Homo sapiens: one gene and its partners. The protein of the gene in region 2 binds, or shares a complex with, the protein of the main gene of each other region. Each region holds a gene or a part of one and is shown on either strand. Other genes may lie near its edges.

Region 1 (7,659 bases), about 22 Mb from region 2:
GGTGAGGTGGCAGGCATGTGTAATCCCAGCTACTTGGGAGGCTGAGGCAGGAGAATCACTTGAACTGGGAAGGTGGAGGTTGCAGTGAGCTGAGATTGGGCCACTGCACACCAGCCTGGGCAAAAGAGTGAGACTCCATCTCAAAGAAAAAAAAAAAAAAGAAACCCAAAAAGAAAAAAAAATAACAACTGTATGGTAAACAAGGAATTCTTATTTCATTCCTGTTGGTGAATGTCTGTGACTGTATGTATGACTTTCTTTTAGAAAAGGTCAAATGCAAATGTGAGACCTTTCAAGAATGTGAAGTCTGCTCAAATAGTCCTTCTGTCCCCGTAATGTTTCAGAAAACACTTAAAGAACAAGAATAGGCTGGGCGCGGTAGCTCACGCCTGTAATCCCAGCACTTTGGGAGGCCGAGGCGGGTGGGTTACTAGGTCAGGGGTTCAAGACCAGCCTGGCCAAGATAGTGAAACCCCGTCCTACTAAAAATACAAAAATTAGCCAGGCATGGTGGCGGGCACCTGTGGTCCCAGATACTTGGGAGGCTGAGGCAGGAGAATTGCTTGAACCTGGGAGGTGGAGGTTGCAGTGAGCTGAGACCGCTCCACTGCACACTAGCCTGAGCGACAGAGCAAGACTCCATTTCAAAAAAAAAAAAAAAAAAAAAAGAACAAGAATAGTACTCAGTGGTTGATGAGGTACGTGGGGACTGGGAGAATGAGAGCAGTTGAGGATTATTTTCTTCTGGGCGTTGATCTGGAAATCAATTACCCGACTAGTTACTTCAGTCAAAATGGTACAGCCAATCCTCCGTCTTCACACAGTCTTGATCCCTTTGTAGATCTAAAGCAACCCCTTTAGGAAGCTTTGTGACTCTGCCACCTCATTTGTGAAATGTTTGGGAGAGATTAATAAAAATAGATATACTAATCACTAGAAAAAAATTTCTACTTTTTCTTTTGAGACAGGGTCTCACTCTGTTGCCTAGGCCAGACTGCAGTGGTGTGATCATGGCTCACTGCAGCCCTTGACGTCCTGGCCTCAAGCGATCCTCCCACCTCAGCCTCCAGAGTAACTGGGTTCACAGATACGTGCCACCATGCCCAGCTAATTTATTAATTTTAAACAGGTTGGAAGCCATGACTTCAGCAATAACAAGAACAACAACAATAATAACCAATTCACCTCAAACCACACCAAAGAGCAAGACAGAGTGGTTGACACTACCTTGTGAAGTTAGCCTTAGTTTTTTTTCCCTACTTACATACTCCTCCTATCTTTGATTTTTTTTCCTTTCAGGCTTCTCATATATGGCGACTTCTCATATATGGCAGCTTCTCAGCACAGAATTCTAAAAAGCTGAATTGTCTTGATCCTCCCAATGTCAGCATACACTATAAGGAATTGTGAATGCCAATAATCCTGGAGAAACAGATGGATATTTGAAATCACAAACATTTATGCACAAACCAAATGTTGAGGTTTTGGGCACAATATGGAGCTCGATCTTAGCCACTCTTGTGTCCTTCCATCCTAATGAGGGAACCTGCTAAGGCCAGGGACAAAAGGAAGGGAGAAAGGGTGTTCTGGGTTGAAAGATGAAAACAGGCTGGCAGAAATGGGTCACCTGTGAAATGAAAAGTTCCAGTGTTCCTAATGTTTGCAAACTGTATCTGGGTAGGTGCAATCCTCATTCAGAGTCAAATATCATAAAATTACTTTGGGGCCATCTACCACGTGTTTGTTTGAGATTGGACAAAAGAGGCGGTGAAATTGGCAAATCATATCATAGCAGGTCCTGGTTGGAATAATGGGATATCAGACTTGAAGAGGACCTCAGAGGTCCTATAACCATAACAAAAATTATAAAACTGGATGGGAGTGGTGGCTTACGCCTGTAATCCCAGCACTTTGGGAGGCCAAGGTGGGCGGATCACTTGAGGTCAGGAGTTCAAGAACAGCCTGGCCAATATGGTGAAACCCCGTCTCTACTAAAAATACAAAAATTGGCTGGGCTTGGTGGCAGGTGCCTATAATCCCAGCTACTTGGGAGGCTGAGGCAGGAGAATCACTTGAACCTGGAAGGCAAAGGTTGCACTGAGCCGGGATCCTGCTACTGCACTCTAGCCTGGGTGACAGAGTGAGACTCCATCTCAAAAAAAAAAAAAAATTATAAAGCTAAAGGATGAGTTATCAAAATTTAATCCAGCAGTCTAAAATTTCAAAACAGAAAATAGAACAAAATGGTTCACAGGTATTAAGGAATAGGAAAGAAAGTAGAGGGCTGGAAGTAAAGAGGTTTAAAAAGGAAAACAAACAGGCCCTGGTTTTAGAAGTTATGAGATGAAGGTTTGGAAAATATACTTTTTTTTTTTTTTTGAGACGGAGTCTCGCTGTGTCACCAGGCTGGAGTGCAGCGGTGTGATCTCGACTCACTGCAACCTCTGCCTCCCAGGTTCAAGCAGTTATCCCGCCTCAGCCTCCTGAGTAGCTGGGACTACAGGTGCCCACCACCATGCTCAGCTAATTTTTGTATTTTTAGTAAAGACGGGGTTTCACCATGTTGGCCAGGGTGGTCTTGATCTCTTGACCTCGTGATCCACCCGCCTCAGCCTCCCAAAGTGCTGGGATTACAGGCGTGAGCCACCATGCCCGGCCTACTTTTGGTTATTTTTTTTAAAAGGGGAAGCATTTAATCAGTTATTAAAAGCAGTCCAGAATTTCAGTCAGATGCTAAAGCAATCCTTTGCAGAAAAAAAGAAGTATCTGTCTTACACATTTGAGTGATTCAATTATATTTTTATACACTGTCTCTGGAATGCCACAGGAAGGTGCTAAAGATATCACTTTGATGATTTAGTTTTGCTAAATACATTTAATAAACTAGATATATATACTGTTTGACATCCTTTTGAATTGGTATATACATTTCTTGAATAAATACTGTGTTATGTTTAAGGTTTTTTTGTTTTGGAGTGCAGTGGCACTATCATGGCTTACTGCAGCCTCAAGCTCTCCAGACTGAGGCGATCCTTCCACCTCAGCCTCCTGAGTAGCTGGGACTACAGGAATGTGCCACCATACCTGGCTAATTTTTGTATTTTTTGTAGAGATGTGGTTTCACCATGTTGCCCAGGCTGGTCTCAACTCCTGGACTCAAGCGATCCTCCCAAAGGGCTGGGAGTACAGGTGTGAGCCACTGTGCCTGGCCACGTCTAAGTACTTCGACATCTACTTCTGAACTGTATGGAGATTAAGTGTCAAAGGTGCAGCCAACATTCTTGGGCTTGGGTACCTCCTAAATAAGCCCATTCAGAATGGAGAGGGTTTCCTAAATCGTAGGGTCTCCAGGTCGTTTTGTAGCATTACAGTGGATTTGCTTTGTTTTCCCCTTTAAGATGTCTAAATTATTTTACTTAATTTTTGTAAAAGATTTTTGTCTTTAAATAGGTTCTTAGGCCTGGCGTGGTGGCTCATGCCTGTAATCCTAGCTCTTTGGGAGGCTGAGGCGGGAGGATCACTTGAGGCCAGGAGTTTGTGACTAGCCTGATCAACATAGTGAGACCCCCTCTCTACAAAAAATAATAAAAGGTATTAAGTGTTCATTTGTCCCCTTTATCACAATACAGCAGACAGAAGTTATCTGGCAACCTTGTGAGATGCAGCTAAAATAAAAAGGTGAAGCCAGTGTTGACAGAGTCTGGGATAGAGAAAATTCAGAGACAGTGATCTCACAGATCCCTGTGCTCCTTCCAAACACCCACGTTAGTGGCGTTGGGACGGCGCTTCCTAAATTTCCGTCCAACTCATCTGCTTGCGTCCGGACATTTGTTAAAAATATTTATTCCTGGCTGGGAGTGGTGGCTCACGCCTGTAATCCCAACTACTCAGGACTCAGGAGGCTGGAGCAGGTGGATCACTTGAACCAGGAGTTCGATACCAGTCCGGGCGACGGAGGGAGACCTCGTCTTTACAAAAAAAAAAAAAAAAAAAAAAAAATACAAAAATTAGCTGGGTATGGTGGCGCGCGCCTGAGTTCCCAGCTACTCAGGAGGCTGAAGTGGGAGGATTGCTTGAGTCCCAGAGGTCGAGGCTGCAGTGAGCCGAGATCGCGCTACTGCACTCCAGCCTGGGCGACAGAGTGAGACCCTGTCTCAAAAAAAATCCCCCAAAAACTGATTCCTGGGTCCTGCCCTAGACTAACTGACTCAGGATCTCCTGAGGTGGTACCTGGAAATCCGTCTTTTTTTTTTTTTTTTTTTTTTTTGGTTGAGACAGAGTGTCACACTGTCGCCCAGGCTGGAGTGCAGTGGCACGCTCACGGCTCTCTGTAGCCTTCACCTCCCGGGTTCAAGCGATTCTTCTGCCTCAGCCTCCCGAGTAGCTGGAACTACAGAAAATCTGCATTTTTTAAGCAAGCGCCGCGGACCGGTTGGAAACCACAGCCGGGATTTACACGCCCCTCGTTTACGCCAGCTTCACACCCGCTCACTAGTGCTCGCCCCTGTGCCTGCCATCGCTGCCTCACCCAGGCGCCGCCCTCCGGCCTCATCCGGGATCCGCCCCCTGCCTCATCCAGGCTTCGCCCCAGTCAGTCTCCGGCAGCTTCTCGCGGCTTCGCAAGCCCCTTCCCGTGATGCCCCGCGCCTGGCTGTCGCGGTTGCCGGGCAACGCGCTGTCCATGTCGCGGGCCTCGCTGGGACTCCCTGGGAGATGAGGCCGCGAGGTCTCCCGCCGCTCCTGGTGGTGCTCCTGGGCTGCTGGGCCTCCGTGAGCGCCCAGACCGATGCCACCCCGGCGGTGACGACAGAGGGCCTCAACTCCACCGAGGCAGCCCTGGCCACCTTCGGAACTTTCCCGTCGACCAGGCCCCCCGGGACTCCCAGGGCTCCAGGGCCCTCCTCCGGCCCCAGGCCTACCCCAGTCACGGACGGTGGGTACCATGTGCCAGCTCCTGGAGTCCACAGTGATCCAACCTCAAGGGGACAGCCCCGGTGAGGACGTAATAATGATAGCTAACTCTTATTGAGCACTTACTGTGTGCAGACACTGCTGAGTGTTCCATAAACGTCCATTCTCTAAACAATAACCCTGAGAAGTAGCTGTTACTATCACTGTCAGGTAAATGAGAAAACCGGGTCTCAGAGTTTAAGTGGAACGGTATCAAACCTTTGAAAATACTTGAAGTGGTCCCAGACAACAGTGATGCAAAGAGCAATAATGAATTCTTGCAGCCCAAGACGAAATTAAGTCGAGACAATGGTGGAAATTAGTGCCTTGGCTGCACTGAACTTTCACTTAAAGAGAGGCCAAAGGTCTATCTTACTAAATGTGACTATGTTAAGACCCTTCTCTGTTGACCTGAATTCTAAAAACCCAGGATTCCTCCTGTGTTGAATTGGAGGTGGAAAGCTATTGAGGGAGGGGTTATGCTCACTTCTTAGGAGTCATATGTAGGGATAATTAACATTTTTTTCAGAAAATGATTAATTCTAGAATTACACATTTAGTGGAAATATTTTATAATCTAATTTGACGTTTGGCTGGCGCCGTGGCTCACGCCTGTAATCCCAGCACTTTGGGAGGTCAACTCGGGTGGATTGCTTGAGGTAGGAGTTCAAGATCAGTCTGGTCAAAATGGCGAAACCCAGTCTCTACTAAAAATAGAAAAAATAGCCGGGCATGGTGTAATCCTAGCTACTCGGGAGGCTGAGGCAGGAGACTCGCTTGAACCCAGGAGGCAGAGGTTGCAGTAATTACCACTGCACTCCAGACTGGGCGACAGAGCAAGACTGTCTCAAAAAAAAAAATTGACATGGATGACTTCACTGAATGACTGTGACCCGCTAAGATTGAGTGCAAAACTTTGTGAATATGCCTTTTCCTGAGATGAGAGTTCATAGCAGCCGATTCTTAAAGTGGTTCATGATCTCAAAAAAAGTTTTTAAAATTTTCCGATTGTGTGAATTGAGAGTAACCCCAATAGATATGCAGTACTTTTAATCTTTTTTTATTCTTTTTTTGTTTTTGAGACAAGGTCTCGCTCTGTTACCCAGGCTGGAGTGCAGTGGCGTGATTATATCTCACTTAAGTCTCAATCTGCTGGGCTCAAGGGATCCTTCTGCCTCAGCCTCCAGAGTAGCTGGAACCACAGGCGTGCTCCCCCAGCTTGCTTTTTTTATTTTTTTATTTTTAGTAGAGATGAGATCTCGCTATGTTGTTCAGGCTGATCTCAAACTCCTGGGCTCAAGTGATCCTCCCACCTTGGCCTTCCAAAGTGCTGGGATTACAGGTGTAAACAACTGTGCCCAGCCTATCCCTTCTTAAGAAGATCTTTTCTCAAATTGATTAAGGCTCAGTATTAGTAAGTAAAAAAGTCATCAGCTGAGATCTTGAACTCTAGGACTTAACTGCGGTTACTGAACCTTTATTTCTCCAAAAGCTCTCCTTTCTGAATTACGAGTAATCTGAAAGAAAAAGTACAGAGAAATATATTTGCTATTTTAATATATAAACAGAGCTCTGTTTTATATTTAAATTGTTGATTTGATGAATTAGTAGGGAAGTTAAATCAGTGATAAACTGGGACAGAAGAAAGCCAAGTATTCAATGCCTGAAACTCTAAAGTTTTTGGACTGGATTGTCTTTTATTCATGTAAGTACTCCATCTGTTAATGCATTTTCTCTCCAAAATAAAGCTATGCTTGAAACATCATTATTATAGCATGTGTTCAAGGCTGTTTTTCCAGTATAGGGGATGAATTTGTGCTTGTCCTCACACTTTATTTTTTTTTTTTTTGGTCACAGGGTCTCACTCTGTCACTCAGGCTGGAGTATAGTGGCATGATCACAGCTCACTGCAGCCTCGACCTCCTAGGCTCAGGTGATCTTCCCACCTCAGACTCCCGGGTAGCTGGAACTACAGGTGCTGCATGCCACCACGCCCGGCTAATTTTTTGTAGGGACGGGGTTTCACCATGTTGCCCAGGCTGGTCTTGAACTCCTGGCCTCAAGTGATTGCCCACCTAGGCCTCCCATAGTGTTAGGATTACAGGCTTGAGCCACTGCACTCTGCCAGTCACCTGTCTTCACCTTTTTAAAGGACCTCTCTTTAGACTTGTGACAGTAATAACTCATTTGTTAACTGTTCACTGTGTGGCAGGCACTGTGCTAAGCATTTCACCTATGATGTATCTCATTTAATCCTTACAACAACCCCATGATGAGGGTACTGTTATCCCCATTTTTCAGGTGGATAAATTATTTGCCTAATTTTAGGACACGCAACTTGTAGATATCGGAGCAGGAGGCTGACTGTGAGTGGAGAACTGGATGGAAAATTGCAGGTGGCTTCAGGCAGTGTTGGTGGAGAAGAGTGATAACCCTTCATCTTGAATCTGGGCTCTGTTCATTAGTACCCTGCTCTACAAGCCAGGTGTGCAGATGCGATAGGAGGCAAGGGCAGCTGAGTGCTGCTTAGACCTGACAGGGGCTCAACAGCTACTTGGTGGATGATTAAGTACACTCGCATCCTGGGTAGAAACCTTTTTCCTAAGTGGAGTTATTAAACACTATTGCTTCGTCCTTAGTAGTCTTACAGCTGCCTATAAGGGCTTTAAGTTTTGAAAACAAAGCAAGATAGTAATTTTAAACATACAG
Region 2 (7,841 bases):
GAAGAAGATAAAATTCAGCAGTAATTTTTTTTTTTTTTGAGACAAAGTCTTTGTCGCCTAGGCTGGAGTACAGTGGTGCGATCTCGGCTCACTGCAACCTCTGCCTCCCGGTTCAAGCAATTCTCCCACCTCAGCCTACCGAGTAGCTGGAATTACTGGCATGCATTACCATAACTGGCTAATTTTTGTATTTTTAGTAGAGACGGGGTTTCACTGTGTTAGCCAGGCTGGTCTTGAACTCCTGGCCTCAAGTGATCCATCTGCCTCAACCTCCCAAAGTGCTAGGATTTCAGACATGAGCCACTGTGCCTGGCCATCAGCAGTAATTTAATATAAAGCCAGATATTCAGCTTATCTACTTAAATTTTAAATCCTCTCTAACAAAGTAGAAAATGTTAAAGCTATTAAGGATTTAATATCAACCTAACACATAAATAATAGGCCAAAATTTTCAAAACTTAAGGATTTAAGGATTAAACAGTTTCATTTTAAAGAATTAAAAAGAACACACACACAAACTAACCAAAGAATACAGAAACAAATTAATCTGCTCCTCCAAAAAAACCCCTAATAAAATGGTTTTCTGCCCAACATCTTTATTTTACTTTTCTAAGTCATAGCTAGACTATTATTTGCTCTCAGTGAACATAAATTACTTAGAAATATAAGGCAATACAACACAATGGTTAAAAGAAGCAATCTAAAATCACACCGGCCTAGGTTTATGTCCCTCATCAACCAATTTCTAGTAAAGCATGAATGAGTTACTTAACATCTCTTTAACTCAGTTTTCTCATACATGCTGACATAAGAGTTAAACAAGAAGCATACAGAGTTCTTAGAAAAATGATCAGTGAATAGAATAGCAAAAAGTAATACAGCATTCTCTTATCTACATATAAGTGACTTTATCTGTGATTCTTGTTTCTCTGAACAGGCAAACATTATTATAAACATTATGATGCCTTTTTTCACCTATTCTCCAAACCTCATTCCTCTTATGACCTTTCATTTTTCTGGTTCTCCTCTTTATTAAAGGAGACGATAGAATCACAATGGTATACAACGATATTTAAAAAGTCTATAATAAAGAACCAAATGTAGTATGTGATCCTTGACAGAACTTTGGATATTGGAGGTGGGGAGACTGAAGGATATTATTGGGCCATTAGAAGAAATCTCATTATGGACTAGATAATGGTGTTGAATCAATATTAAAATTCCTGAGCATGACAATTATATTGTGTTCATTGTAGGAGAACATCTTTCTTTTTCAAACAGACAAGCTGAAATATTTAAGTGCAAAGTATCATATCTGCAATTAGCTCTTAAATGACTCAGCAAAAAATGTGATTGAACAAACAAGAGACAGAGAAATACATGTGTGTGTAAAAATACTGACAAAAAGATAAAGCAAAGTTGGCACAACATTAAGAACTGGTGAATCTATATGAAGGGTATGTGGGTGGTTATTGTTTTTCTTTTTCCCATCAACTTTTAAGTTCTGGGGTACATGTGTAAGATGTGCAGGTTTGTTACTTAGGTAAATGTGTACAATGGTGGCTTGCTGCACAGATCAACCCATAACCTAGATATTAAGCCCAGCATCCATTAGCTATTCTTCCTGATGTTCTCCCACCCCGACCCCTTGACGGGTCCCAGTGTGTGTTGTTCCCCACCATGTGTCCATGTGTTCTCATTGTTCAGCTCCCACTTATAAGTGAGAACATGCAGTGTTTGGTTTTCTGTTCCTGTGTGAGTTTGCTGAGGATAATGGCTTCCACCTCCATCCCATGTCCCTGCAAAGGACATGATCTTGTTCCGGTTTTTTTTTTTTTTTTTTTTTGAGACAAACTCTAGTTTTGTTGCTAAGGCTAGAGTCCAGTGGTGCGATCTCAGCTCACTGCAACCTCTGCCTTCTGGGTTCAAGTCATTCTCCTGCCTCAGCCTCCCAAGTAGCTGGGACTGCAGGCATACAGTACCATGACCAGTTAATTTTTGTTTGTTTTGTTTTGTTTTTGTAGAGATGGGGTTTCACCATACTGGCCAGGCTGGTCTTGAACTCCTGACCTCAAGTGATCTGCCTGCCTCGGCCTCCCAAAGTGCTGGGACTGTAGGCATGAGTCACCACGCTTGACCTCTCATTCTCTTTTGATGGCTGCATAGTATTCTATGATGTATATGTTCCACATTTTCATTATCCAGTCTATCATTGATGAGCATTTGGGTTGATTCCATGTCTTTGCTATTGTGAATAGTGCTGCAATGAACATATGTGTGCAAGTATCTTTATAAGAAAATGATTTATATTCTTTTGGGTATATACCCAGTAATGGGATTGCTGGGTCAAGTGGTATTTCTGCTTCTAGATCTTCGAGGAATTGCCACACTGTCTCCCACAATGGTTGAACTAATTTACATTAACACCAACAGTGTGTTTCTTACAATCTTTATGAAGATATGACATTTTTCAAAATAAAAATTTAAAGAAAGTTTATAATAAAATGCAAACTACAATACAAATTTTAGAAGTTTGCCTATCATTATTATTATCAATTGAAAGTTAATAATCCCACTGTGTTCTGAATTGGGAAATTTTTACAAGAAGAGAAGCCAAGAACTTAATGCTAAAGCATTTAATGCTATTAATGTTTTTTTCCCTTGTCTTCTCAAACATCACACTCTGTTTCTCCTTTCTTGAGCTTTTCCTTGAAGCACTCTTCCTATTTCATTGCTTTATTAGACATTTCTCAGAGACGTGCCTTACAATCACTTCTCTGGCTTCAATAATGTCTACATTGATGATTCATAAATCCTCATCATCTGTACAGGGTCTCTTGTGAATTCCATATCCACAGATACCCTTTTTGAATATGCCCAGAAGAACCTCAAACTCAACATCTACAAAACTGAAATAATCTCAAGCTTTCCAAATTCCTCTTGTGTTCCTCCTTAATGAATGGCACTATCTACCTATTTAGTGGCCCAACCCACAAAATTAGGCAGACTCTCCATCCTCCCTCTCCTCCAACAACCAATTACATTCACCACATCCAATTACATCTACTTCTCTCACACTTGTCTTTCTCAGGCAAATGCCATCATTAGCACTTCCCTGAATTAACACAAATGTTTCCTTACTAGTCTTGGCCCTTTTCAATCCACTCTCTACAAAGTACAGTAAACTTTTAAAGTATAGATCTGATCATGATATCCTGTGCTCAAAACTCTTCACTGGCTCCTTTCAGGAAAAGAACCAAATTCATTAGGAACTGGCCCTTGCTTATCTCTCCAGAGGATCATAAAAAATAAAACTGGGAAGGCAAGATAGCACAGACTCTTGAGTAAGACTGTTTTCAAATCCTACCTTTACCATTTATAAGCTGTGCAACCATGGGCAATTACTCTTTCTGTGTCTCCATTTCTTCATCTGTATCATGGCAGAAATGACAACTATCTCATATGACAAGTATCAAATAAGCAATAATGAATTAATGCATATGAAGTGCCTGGCACATAGTAAGGACTCTATGAAAGCTATTTTCACTTATATTTCAGTCAAAATGAATAACTGTAGTTTCCTAAATACTCCATAACATCTCTTACCTCTAGGTCTTAGCAAATGCTATATCTTCTACCCAGAATGTTCTTTTATTAACCACCATATATATCCTCATTCCTCTTACCAGTCTAACTATACTTCAGGTCTCAGTTTACAGATCACATCCTGCACCTCAAGGCTGATTACGGTATCTCTCTCCAGAGTATGCCAGAATATGACCTTATGTATCTCCCTAAGTATCATATTATCACTATGTTATGCTTATTATTGACTATGAATATTCTTGAGAACCAGAACATAGTTGCCCACTATATCACTAGTAACTAGCAGCCTCTGGTATGCTGTAAAGACTCAATAAAACTGAATGACTGGTTAACGGCAAAGAAGTAATTGCCAAAGCAACCCATACCCATATTTCATCTCAAGGAATTGAGCAGCCAAAAAGGAACACAGGCCATATATTCAAGTTTTCTCTGTGTGTGACTATGAAAAAAGACAATAGTCTAAGATATAAATGGACAAGGTAGTTCTGATTAGCTAAGGGTGTGTGGTATGAATGATAAGTCAACTGATACAGGTCTATATAGAAGAACAAAAGTCCAGAAAACCACAGACATCCCCCTAAGCAATTCTACCAGTGTATATTATAAGTTAGATCCTTGATGACTATTAAAAAATCCACATGTCTGCTATGTTTTGCAGTTAGCTAAACAGATAATGCTCTAAGAGCTTCTTCCTAACATTTAAGTGGCATCGATCCATACTTTCTCTACCACATTGTTTTCATAGCTAACTTCTATATGATTCTTCAACATTTTAGAGTAAAATACATACATGAAGAATGGGGATACTTTTCCTTACAAATCAATTTATGATACATTCTCTTAAATAGCATATCATTGTTTTCTTAAAATGTATGACCCTCAATTTCTGAGAGAACAATGGACAAAATAAAATAAATGGAATATAACACAACAATGACCTAAAGGACACAAAGGTGGAAAACGTTTCTGAGTATAAGGGACAGGACAGTTACCACATGTAGGCACCAAATTTTACTAAGTTTACTAACAGTTCAGGTGAAATAAAAAACAAATAAATGTTAAGTAAATAAATAAATAATACATTAAATAGGAAGCTGAGGTAAAATAGGAAATTTTCTTCCAGGAAATACAAGTTGATCTGCAAAAAACTTTTTTCCTAAAACTAAATTCAAGTGAACACTGCAAGAATTATTAGTTTATAACAAGGAATAACGAGGTAATAAAAACTATGCATTAAAAATGTTATTTTAAATATGTGATTTATAAACTGCTGACATGAACACAACTTTTCAAAAACTATACATATATATATATATCTCACATAAAATAAGGTACAACCAAAAACAAGATATTTAATTAACCATTATTGAATATATCGAAAGATTCATTTGCGAATCTACTAATCATATAAATACATTGAAATGAACAAATATAACTTTTACCCAAAATAAACTATGGCACTAGAAAGATCACTTCTTTATGAAAATCTATTAGTTACTTGATACCAATCTTCCAGACAAAAGCATTAATTTTAGGTAACAAGTTTGATGTCCTGAGAAAAATGTACTTCCAAATATAAAGAATTAATCTTCAAGTCATATTCACTAGAAGTACCATTATATTTTAAAATTGGTGATGACAAAATGAACAGTGATATAAAACCTTAGAGATAAGTGTACATCATTTTTCAAATATAACATACAATATAAAAATTGATATTGTTACCAATAATAATAAAAAGCCAGGTAACTTGAACAGTGAAGATTCATGGAAAAAAAAAGTGCTTTACTTGCTCATTAACTTTCTTCTCTTTCTCCAACTCCTTTTCCATGTCCTCCAATTCTCTATCTTTTTGTTCTAATTGTTTTTCAAGTTGGCAAATTTCATTACGTAAAAACCGAGTATCTCGTCCACCTGCAGACTGCTGAGCCATCTTAAAGTAATAAACCCAAAGTATAAATTAATCCCATTATATTTTGAGGTTCAAATGAGTCAACAACAAGCAAATAATTATGCTGAATTTAAATTTGCATTATACTTCAGTGCAGATATTTAAAATCATATTAGCTTAAGAACTTTTTTTTTTTTAATTTAACTTACTTAAGGTTAGTTCACAGCTAATAACTCCTTAAATTTTTCCTGAGCCACCCAGAGATGCAAAGAATTGACTGTTAATCATTCTGTTGTAACCACTGGGCCACAGGTAACCAGACTAAACTGCAAAGGTTCCTGAGCCTCAGGGATCTGGAACCTGAGTACAAACCATCAGAATCTCCACCCCAGTCAGTGAAGCTGAGTGCCTTAACCTGCCCTTTCTCTCATACCATGCACTGTTTAGACCAGTGCTGTCCCATAGGACTTTCTAGCATAATGGACATGCTGTCAGTGCTGTCCAGTTCAATAGCCACTCGCTACATGTAGCTATGTTCGGGCATTTGAAGTGTGGCTAGTGCAACTGAAGAACTAAATTTTTCATTTTAATTTTAACCAATGTAAATATAAATAGCTACAAGTGGTTAGTGCTAGTGCTACCATATTAAACAGCTCAGGTTTTGGTTATCTTAAGATTTGTAGCCGATTAAATCCATTTTACCTCACAGTCTTGTTAATTCAGGTCATGGCCAAGAACATCAAATCATTTGGTCATCTAATGTGTCTCACATTCATTTCTTCACCTTATAGTTCTGTTATTCCTCTACCTTAACCAAATTGTTCTTACTCTTTCTCTCCTCCAAAAAGCATTCCATTGTGCTCTCTAAAATTCTCTTCCAAGATAAATTAATATTTCACATCCTCAGATTCTTTACTGAATCCTCCTTTCCATCTCCTTGGCTTAGCTGCAATTTGGATCCTTTAGTATACTAATGCCCTTGGAACTCTTTCAATTGGAAGGTGCTCATTCTTTCAGATTCCAAATACATGAGGGTCAGAAGAAGGTGTTGGTGCTTCTAGGTTTACCCCACCCTGCAACTTCAGGTGATCATTCCTATCATTCCTCCATCATCCTATAGAAACTTCAGCTGCTTTCTCACAAAATATCCTGCTCTCCATCTTTACCTACTCATGGTAGAAACAAGCCACCAACCTTCCAGTAACTCCGCAAAATGCACTGGGAATTTAAGCATGTGGCCCACAGATGTCTATCAAATGCCCACTAAGCAATCTCCACATAACTTTTGTTCTAGTCTATTTTTTTCTTGAATTCACTATAGTCTCTCACTCCCACACCCACATCAGATCCTTGTCCAACCAGAACATTCTTTCAATTATTCCCACTATGCCTGTCCTTCGACCTCACAGGACACTCTAACCCCTCATCTTCTCCCTCCATATCCCTACCCTTCTGCCCACCCAACCCCAATCTTGATTTTATCTATTCAGTTAAGACTTCATAATCATCACTTCAACCACTTTCCTACCAATATCTTCAACTGTGCTACCCTTCTATTCTACAGCAGCTACCTAGCTAAACACTAACACAGAACTGATCCAACTCCATAATTCATTTAGTATTTATTGAAAGTGCTTGGCATTTTCCCAGGAGCTGGATATACAATCAAAAACAATAGGTCATCCAAGTTCAGAGAGTTAACGAGTAGAAGAATCAGGACTAGAACTCAAATCTGTCTGACTCCAGATCCCCAACTCTCCAGTCCTGTCTCCAATATATTTCAAATTTTACCTAATTTCCTTAAAATGTGACCACACCATTTCCCACTCTTTTTAACAGAAGATGTCATCACCAACCCCTCAACTTCCAAGCATTATGCCTACAAACATAAAAGCCTCTATACACATCCACTCTTCCCACGCTCATCCACTCATCCTCCTCTCCTAACACAAAGGAAAAGGGTATTCCTCCTTTCAAAGGCTGATCCATTTGTATCACATTCCTACCTTCTCAGGAATCTCAATGTATTTTGTTCTTCAACAATACATTCATATTTTAGCCTTCAGCTTTGTCAAAAATTACTTCTATAACACCCTTTCGTCACTATTCCTCAAATCCCCACCCACCCTCCACCTCAGTTACTAGTAATCTTTCTGTATATTTCCCAAGACTATAAGCTCCATCCAGCAGTTAACTTCTTATTTTGTTCACAACCATATGCTCAGTCCTTAGTACTATATAAGGCACATAATAGGCATGTAGAACATATACAGAATAAACAAATAACCATGATTACAATCATCCTTATAATTTTTCCAGCCAACAATAATTTTAAAATTTGAAA
Region 3 (7,431 bases), on a different chromosome or scaffold from region 2:
AATCTTGGTGGCCTTCTTTTGATTTTCTGAATTAACCCTGCTCCTTCAAATATCAGGGTTTTTGCATATATTGTACCCTCTACCATAGACCATTTCTTCCCCACCGGTGGCAATGTGTCTCTTCCTCAGGAATGTTTTCCCTGACCCCACAGTTCATCATCCATCCTATACCTCTTTACGATATTTATAAAAATTTATAATTAAATGATAAATTGTGAAATCAATTGTTTTATGTTTGTGTTGCTGGAATATGAAGTCCAGGAGTTCAAGGAATTTGTCATCTTTGTCCACTGACAACAGTAGCTGGCACATAGAAAAGTCTTAATATTTTTTGAACTGAATAAATAATGGCATGGCTGTTTGTGTCTTTTTTAATGCTACATCCTCAGAACCAAATAGTGTAACTGGCACATACTGGGCCATCAATAAATATTTAAGAATCTGAATGAGCATAACCTGAGCTTGAATTAGTAACTCTTCATCCCTACAACATTACCTTAGATTCTAATTCCTTATATGAGACCAAACTGATTTGGGAGAAAGCAGCCAACTAAATTTGAAGACTAGTTTTAAAGTGTTTAAAATGGATGAAAAACATACCTTAAGAAATGCCCAGGCAATTTTCCGAAAGCCACATTCTTGGTTTTGAACCTCAGAATTATTCTTAATTTCATCCACGCTTAAGAAATCAAGAATCTGCAAATAAATTCACAGAAGACTAAGCTACCTAAAATTTAATATTTTCTAATGGTACATTATTAAAACTTTAAAAAATCATTTGTATAGTGCTTAAAAACATTAACCTTTACAGGGAATAAAAACATTTTTATCTCATTTCATTCACCTTAAAGTTAACTCATTCAGTTAGGGAGGGTCCATTTTCTGACTATTTTATCTTTCATTAATAAATACTATGATTTATTTCAAATCCAAAGCAAAGTGTTAATCACCTCAAATATAACCTAGGTACAAATATAATAGGCATAGAATTCTTAAGCTTTCATTGTTTTTTATGTATCACAGCAGACTTTAAAGGATTGTTTGTTTAAAAAACTCACAACCCTATTTCTGGGTCTTTGTCTTGGATCACCTTCCTGAAGTTGGGGTTTTTCTCTTTGGATGTATGTTATAATTAGGCTTCTCAAGAGGATTTCTTCCATTCCTCTATCCTGTCTGGACATTAAAGCTCATGGATTTGCAACCAACCTGCCACAGAGATCGTATTCTAGATATTTATCAAAGGCTATCACTTCAAACTTACTGGTGCTTATTAAAAGCTCAGCTGCGAAAATGAGATTTTTATAGAAAGAAGACTGCTTAAGAAATGATACAGACTCCAATCATCTGTGCTTTTTGGATACCTAAATCTTTTTTACAGATATAATACATGCTCAGTGAAAACATAATATAAAAAATATATAGATCCAAAGTAAAAACAACTTGTAATCCAGACCCATAGATGGTCACCATTAACATCTAGTTTGCAGGCCAAATCTTTTTCTGTGCATTCCTAAACATATGTGTGGAACTACAAATCTAATAATGCTATTTCACAAATTATTTTCATATAGTATGTAGTGAATATCTCTTCATGTCAATACATACACATGAATACCGTAATGTTAATGACTGCCTACTATTCTGTCACAAATACCATAAATTTAACAAAAATTATAACTTATTTAACCAAATCTCTTACTGATCTAAATGTAGGTTATTTTATCTCCCTAAAATTTTTGCTATTATAAACAGTGCTGAAATAAATATCCTTGCACACACATCTTCACGGACTTGTCATTTTTTTCCTTAAGATAAATACCTAAGAGTAAAATAATGGTTTTAAAGACTGTGAGACATTATCAAGTTGTCCTCAACACTTAAAAAACTGAGATCAAAAAGCAGTTGCATAGGCAATAACATATTACATTAAAACTTAAGAAGCAACCAAAAGCGTTTATAATACAACAATCTATCCTTCTTCATCTCTTAATACTAAAATGAATACAGAAGAAAATTGTAACAAATGACAAAGTTTGAAGACAAAAAATTCCTTAAGATACAAATTATATCAATTTTTCAACAATAACAGCTTTATGTAAATCACACACAACATAATCACAAATGTAAATATTGGAATATTTGTATCATAAATACAAATAGACAACCTGAAAGTCAAGGATCATAAAAACAAGTAATTCTACAAAATGAATCTTCGGCACTGGTTATGCCAAGTCCCCTGCTGTTCCCATGCTAAACTTCTCCATCTAGCTTACACTGGAAGGGGGCTTTCTCTATTGTCCTTTGCTTATGGAGACAGAACACATGATAGAGTAAAGAAATGTGGTATTCTAGGTTCAAACTATCTGCAAACGCATTTTTTTTAACTTAAAATTCGAGTAACTTTGGGGAAATCACTTTTATTCCAAACCTTGTTATCATTTTCAGTAAGAAAATTATATAATAACAACTAGTCAGCTCAAAAGCCATGTATTCCATAAAGCTTTCCCTGACTCCACTGACCCGCCACTAACCCTTCACATATAAGTTCTACATCATTTTTGGTTACATATTAAACTGCATTAACTGATCTGTGTACATTTATCTTTATTTATCCAGGTGGTACACATATTCTTAGGGTGCCTGACATGGTTAAATGAGTTTATGCTTTGTGAAATGGGTTTAAAATGGAGAAATGCATTCATATCGAGTGGATTCATCACTTCACTACAGTTAACAGTCACAGAGCTGTTGTAATTATTAAATTATACAAAGTAGGCCAAATGGTTAAATAGTAAACACTCAGCAAATATGCTATCACTGTTTATAAAAGGGCGTCTCACTTGATTCCACAGCATTGGAAAACTAAATCCTAGAGATTAAATTCTCACACAACTTTTTTTTTTGCCTTACTGGACTACTAAAAATAATAGCTTACATTTGTGCTATTAAATATTAACTATCGTTTAATTTGAATTGGTCCATTCAATTCATACCTCAAAGAACAGGATGACTTTAGGACTCTCATCAGAGCCTCGAAGCAAATAGGGAAAATTTTCATTAAATACAATTTGTTCTTCCCACTCTGGAAGTCTTGATTTTAACTGTTTAAAATCATATGGCTGGGTCATAATAGGAAGAATATAATCCACATTCTCTTTTTCATAGTAAGATGAAACAGGCCGTCCACTGTACAAAAAAAGATACTTCCATTAACACAATTTTCATAATTTTGAGGTGAGAAAAAAATATATAGTGTACAAGGTGAGGCAACCAGAAATAATGAATAGTCATAATAATACAAAAGGAAAAATTATTCTGAGTGTCCATCTAGAAACTTACAAATTTTATAAGACTTAAAAGTAACAGTCCATCTTATATTTGTCTACTATCAATTGGTTTCACATGATTATTTTATTATAGAAATATAAAGTGAGAAGTATGATTATACCTTTGCCATATAAAGCTGGGATAAACTAACTCCTTCAGAATTTTGTAAGAGTTTATAATAAAATAGACATTGCCAGGCACAGCGGCTCAAGCCTGTAACCCCAGCACTTTGGGAGGCTGAGGCAGGTGGACTGCTTGAGCTCAGGAGTTTGGGACCAGCCTGGGTAACATGATGAAACCTCGTTTCTACAAAAAATAGAAAAAAAGTTAGCTGGGCATGGTGGCACATGTCTGCAGTCCCAGCTACGTGGGAGTCTGAGGTGGGAGGATCACCTGAGCCCAGGGAGGTTGAGGCTGTAGTAAGCTGTGATTGCACCACTGCACTCCAGCCAGTGAGACGCAGTGAGATATTGTCTCAAAAAAAAAAAAAAAAGACATAAAATTGATTTTACATAAAAAAGGCACAAGACTGTAAACCCTTTGAGTTGTCATATTTTCTTTGTGTGCCCTAAGGCAAATGAATAGGTGAATGGGCTTTTTTTGGACAATCTTCCTGTTTCCATTCCCCACTGGCTTTCCAAACAATTTTTTAAAAAATTCTAGTATAAATGTGTATTTCATTGTACTTTTCATTTGGGATTTCAAGCATGCATTAGCTATAGAAGTACTCTTAGAAAAAACATTCAAGATTCATTTACCTTACCTGAAGCCCAGATAACATTACTTTCAAAAGAAAAATATGAGGTTAGACAATTAAAGCATTTACAATGCAATATAAAATATTTACAATGCAACTTTATGTCATAAATTACATCTACTAAGCTGGCAGAAGCTCTCTACCACTTAAAATGAATTATTCCCTTCCACTTAAAAGTAATTACTGAGCCAGGCACGGTGGGTCATGCCTGTAATCCCAGCACTTTGGGAGGGTGAGGCAGGTAGATCGCCTGAGGTCAGGAGTTCGAGATCATCCTGGCCAAACCCCGCCTCCACTAAAAATACAAAAATTAGCCAGGAGTGGTGGCGAGTGCCTGTAATCCCAGCTACTTGGGAGGCTGAGGCAGTAGAATCGCTTGAACCCAGGAGGCAGAGGTTGCAGTGAGCCAAGATTGAGCACTGCATTCCAGCCTGGGCGACAAAGCGAGACTCCATCTCGGAAAAAAAGTAATTACTGAATTAGATGTTCTCCATTTCTTCTACAACATTCTGATCAATGTTAATGACTGATGAACACCTACAACTAGTAGACTATTCTCTAATACAAATCCATAACTCTATTCCCACTGACTTTCAACTACCAATGGCAGAAAAAAGACTTCTACTAGTTTCAGTTTCAAGAATTAGTTGTGCAATTAAAAAAAATTACCTATCATCTTTCTTGACATATTGACCAGTATGCTCATCAACCACATGAATTTTTACCATTGGGTGAGAAATCATAAAATCTGACTTAAGTCTATCAGTTCGGTGAATGTAAACTCCCAAGACAAGGTCATCATCAAGCAAACATTTGGGATAAACCGGGCTATCTCGGCTTGTTATTTCATGAACACCATCACCATCAACATCTTCATTATTATCTGCAACTACACGCATGGAAAAAAAAATCAATGTTATAATTAGTTGTTCCCATAGTAGTATTTACATATAACCTAATCTTTAAGATCTGTGATGATCTCACTGTGTTCAAAGGAACTTCAGGGGGAAAGAAAGAAAAAGCCAGACAACAGCAAACCATAGTGTGAAAGTAAAATACTACATTTGCTAATACATTACAAATAAGGTGAAAAATCCTTGTTTATATTTTTCCTAATAAGTAGGAGAAACACAAAAAGAAAAAAAAGAGAGTCAAAGTCAGAAAAGTAACTTTATCCAGGTATTTTCTAAGTAGAATATATATGACAACTAGAATTTCTAATTCTGGGTGGGATGCAGTAGGATGCAGCAGGTAAACACTTTGGGTAACAACTGGAAAGAGCCAAATAAATTACAAATATCTTATTTTAAATTTTAAAGGCATCAGAAAAGTACAGAAAGAAGATATAGTAGACAGATTAAAATTCCAGAAAGGGAGAATCAGTCAGAGGTCAGCTGATGGACTGGCAGCTGTTTTTGTCTCTGGGGACATTTGCTGATTCAGGGTGTGAGCTGAAGATGAGAGTTTGGCTTAGGCAGAAAGTCACTGCCAGGAGAATGAGAAATAAGCAAAACTTTTAGTGATTCCACAGGACTAAAATGATAAAACTGGAGATTTGAGAAGCCTCAAACACATGACCAATTCTTCTCACAAAACTGAATTCTGATGCTACAGAGAAGCTAGAGAGGTAGTGAAATCTCCCAGGCTTGTGGTGCTAGCAGACCATGATCTGCCAGGGGAAGGGGACCAAAACAAAATAGGCAAAGGTGAAGCCCTGGAGGGTGTGGTCAATTTACACTAAGGACCAAGAGCAACTTTTCATCTGGGGTCATCTACCAATTCTGGTCACAGTTCTAGGTTGATAATCCAGGTGTGATTTCTGGCAGAAGGTTGCTACTGAGGGACAGAGAAACCAGCGGATATTTTGGCATGCTTGGGGGCTACAGTGACAAAAATGGATACCTGAAGGATGTCTAACATATAGCCAGTCTCCTGCTCAAAGAATTTGCCAAATTTTGAAGCAGCATGAGACAGAAGACTAAATGGCTAAGTGGAAAAGCACTGAAGGGCAAAACTGGATCTCCCATCGTATTTAGGGCTATGAATTATTAGAGATAAAGAAGGGCGCTGCATTATGATAAAAGTGATAACTTGACAAGAGATACAAGAAAAATAAACTGAAAATCGGAATGGAAATGTTAATACCTCTCTCAACAGCTGACAGAATAAGTAGACCAAAAAAATTAATAAGAAGAACTGAGCACAATTAAACTTGACCTAACTGACATACATAGGACACTGCACTCAACATTAGAAATTGCATTCTTTTCAAATGAGCATGGAATATTTACCAAATCTGACCATAAAATGGTCATTAAAAAGGCCTCAATAAACTCAGAGGATTGAAATCATTCATAATATGTTATCTGACAACAATGGAAGACAGAAACCAATAAAAGATAACTAGAAAAGCATCTGCTGCCTGAAACTAAGCAACATACTTCTAAATAATGATCAATTAAAATGGAAATTAGAAAATATTTTGTGTTAAATAATAAAAACACACAATATTAAAAATTTTGGAGATGCAGGTAAAGTAGTACTTAAATGGGAATTTAGTCTTAAATGCATATAAAAGAAGACTGAAATCTTTCTTATAAAACCCAATTTTAAAGCTAGAAATAAGTAGCAAATCAAACCCAAATAAGTACAAAGAAGGAAAATACAGTTACAAGAAAAAAAATCACTAAAATAGTACATAAATGTACAACAGAGAAAATCAAAGCTAAAGGTTGGTTTTTGAAAAGACTCATAAATTTAAAATCCTAAGGCTGATCAAGAAATTGAGAGAAAACAAACTGCCAATACCATGAATGAAAACATGGGACAGCCTTTCAGATGCTATAGAAATGCAAAATTTGGATGAAATAGACACATCCCTCAAAAACTACAGTATATCAAATAGCTGACAGAAGTAAAAAAAAAAAAAAAAAAGATTGATAATAAAGAGATTAAATCTTGATTTGTATCAAGGCAAGCAAAATGATAAGGCATAAGGACTGAAAAAGAAGCGATAAAACTATCGTTATTAACGTATTACATGATTGCATATGTAGAAAAATCCAAACAATGTAAGAATAAACTCTGTGGGCCGCGATAGCTCACATCTGTAATCCCAGCACTCTGGGAGACTGAGGTGGGAGAACTGCTTGAGCCCAGGAGTTTGAGACTAGCCTGGAAAATGTAGTGAGACCTTGTCTCTACAAAAATTAGCCAAGAATGGTGGTGCATGCCTGTAGTCCCAGCTACTTGGAAGACTGAGGTGGGAAGATCGCTTGAACCTGGGAAGTATAAGTTGCAGTGAGCTGAGATCACGCCACTGCACTCCAGCCTGAGTGACAGGGCAA

What was found. The genes of interacting proteins can lie anywhere in the genome.
Region 1: CEP290 (region 2) and TCTN1 share a complex: the UniProt entries of both Homo sapiens proteins name them as parts of the tectonic-like complex.
Region 3: CEP290 (region 2) and AHI1 share a complex: the UniProt entries of both Homo sapiens proteins name them as parts of the tectonic-like complex.

The regions. Positions count from the first base shown.
Region 1 is NC_000012.12:110,609,470-110,617,128, forward strand, and holds the start of TCTN1 (tectonic-1 isoform 1 precursor), read left to right. Parts: upstream 1-4,659; 5' UTR 4,660-4,713; coding exon 4,714-4,933; coding exon of another isoform or gene 4,934-4,994; intron 4,995-6,807; exon of another isoform or gene 6,808-6,843; coding exon of another isoform or gene 6,844-6,883; intron 6,884-7,278; exon of another isoform or gene 7,279-7,435; intron 7,436-7,659. UniProt on the Homo sapiens protein: Component of the tectonic-like complex, a complex localized at the transition zone of primary cilia and acting as a barrier that prevents diffusion of transmembrane proteins between the cilia and plasma membranes.
Region 2 is NC_000012.12:88,131,248-88,139,088, forward strand, and holds part of CEP290 (centrosomal protein of 290 kDa), read right to left. Parts: intron 5,540-7,841; coding exon 5,396-5,539; intron 1-5,395. UniProt on the Homo sapiens protein: Involved in early and late steps in cilia formation. Its association with CCP110 is required for inhibition of primary cilia formation by CCP110.
Region 3 is NC_000006.12:135,452,741-135,460,171, forward strand, and holds part of AHI1 (jouberin), read right to left. Parts: intron 4,974-7,431; coding exon 4,754-4,973; intron 3,187-4,753; coding exon 2,994-3,186; intron 697-2,993; coding exon 601-696; intron 1-600. UniProt on the Homo sapiens protein: Involved in vesicle trafficking and required for ciliogenesis, formation of primary non-motile cilium, and recruitment of RAB8A to the basal body of primary cilium.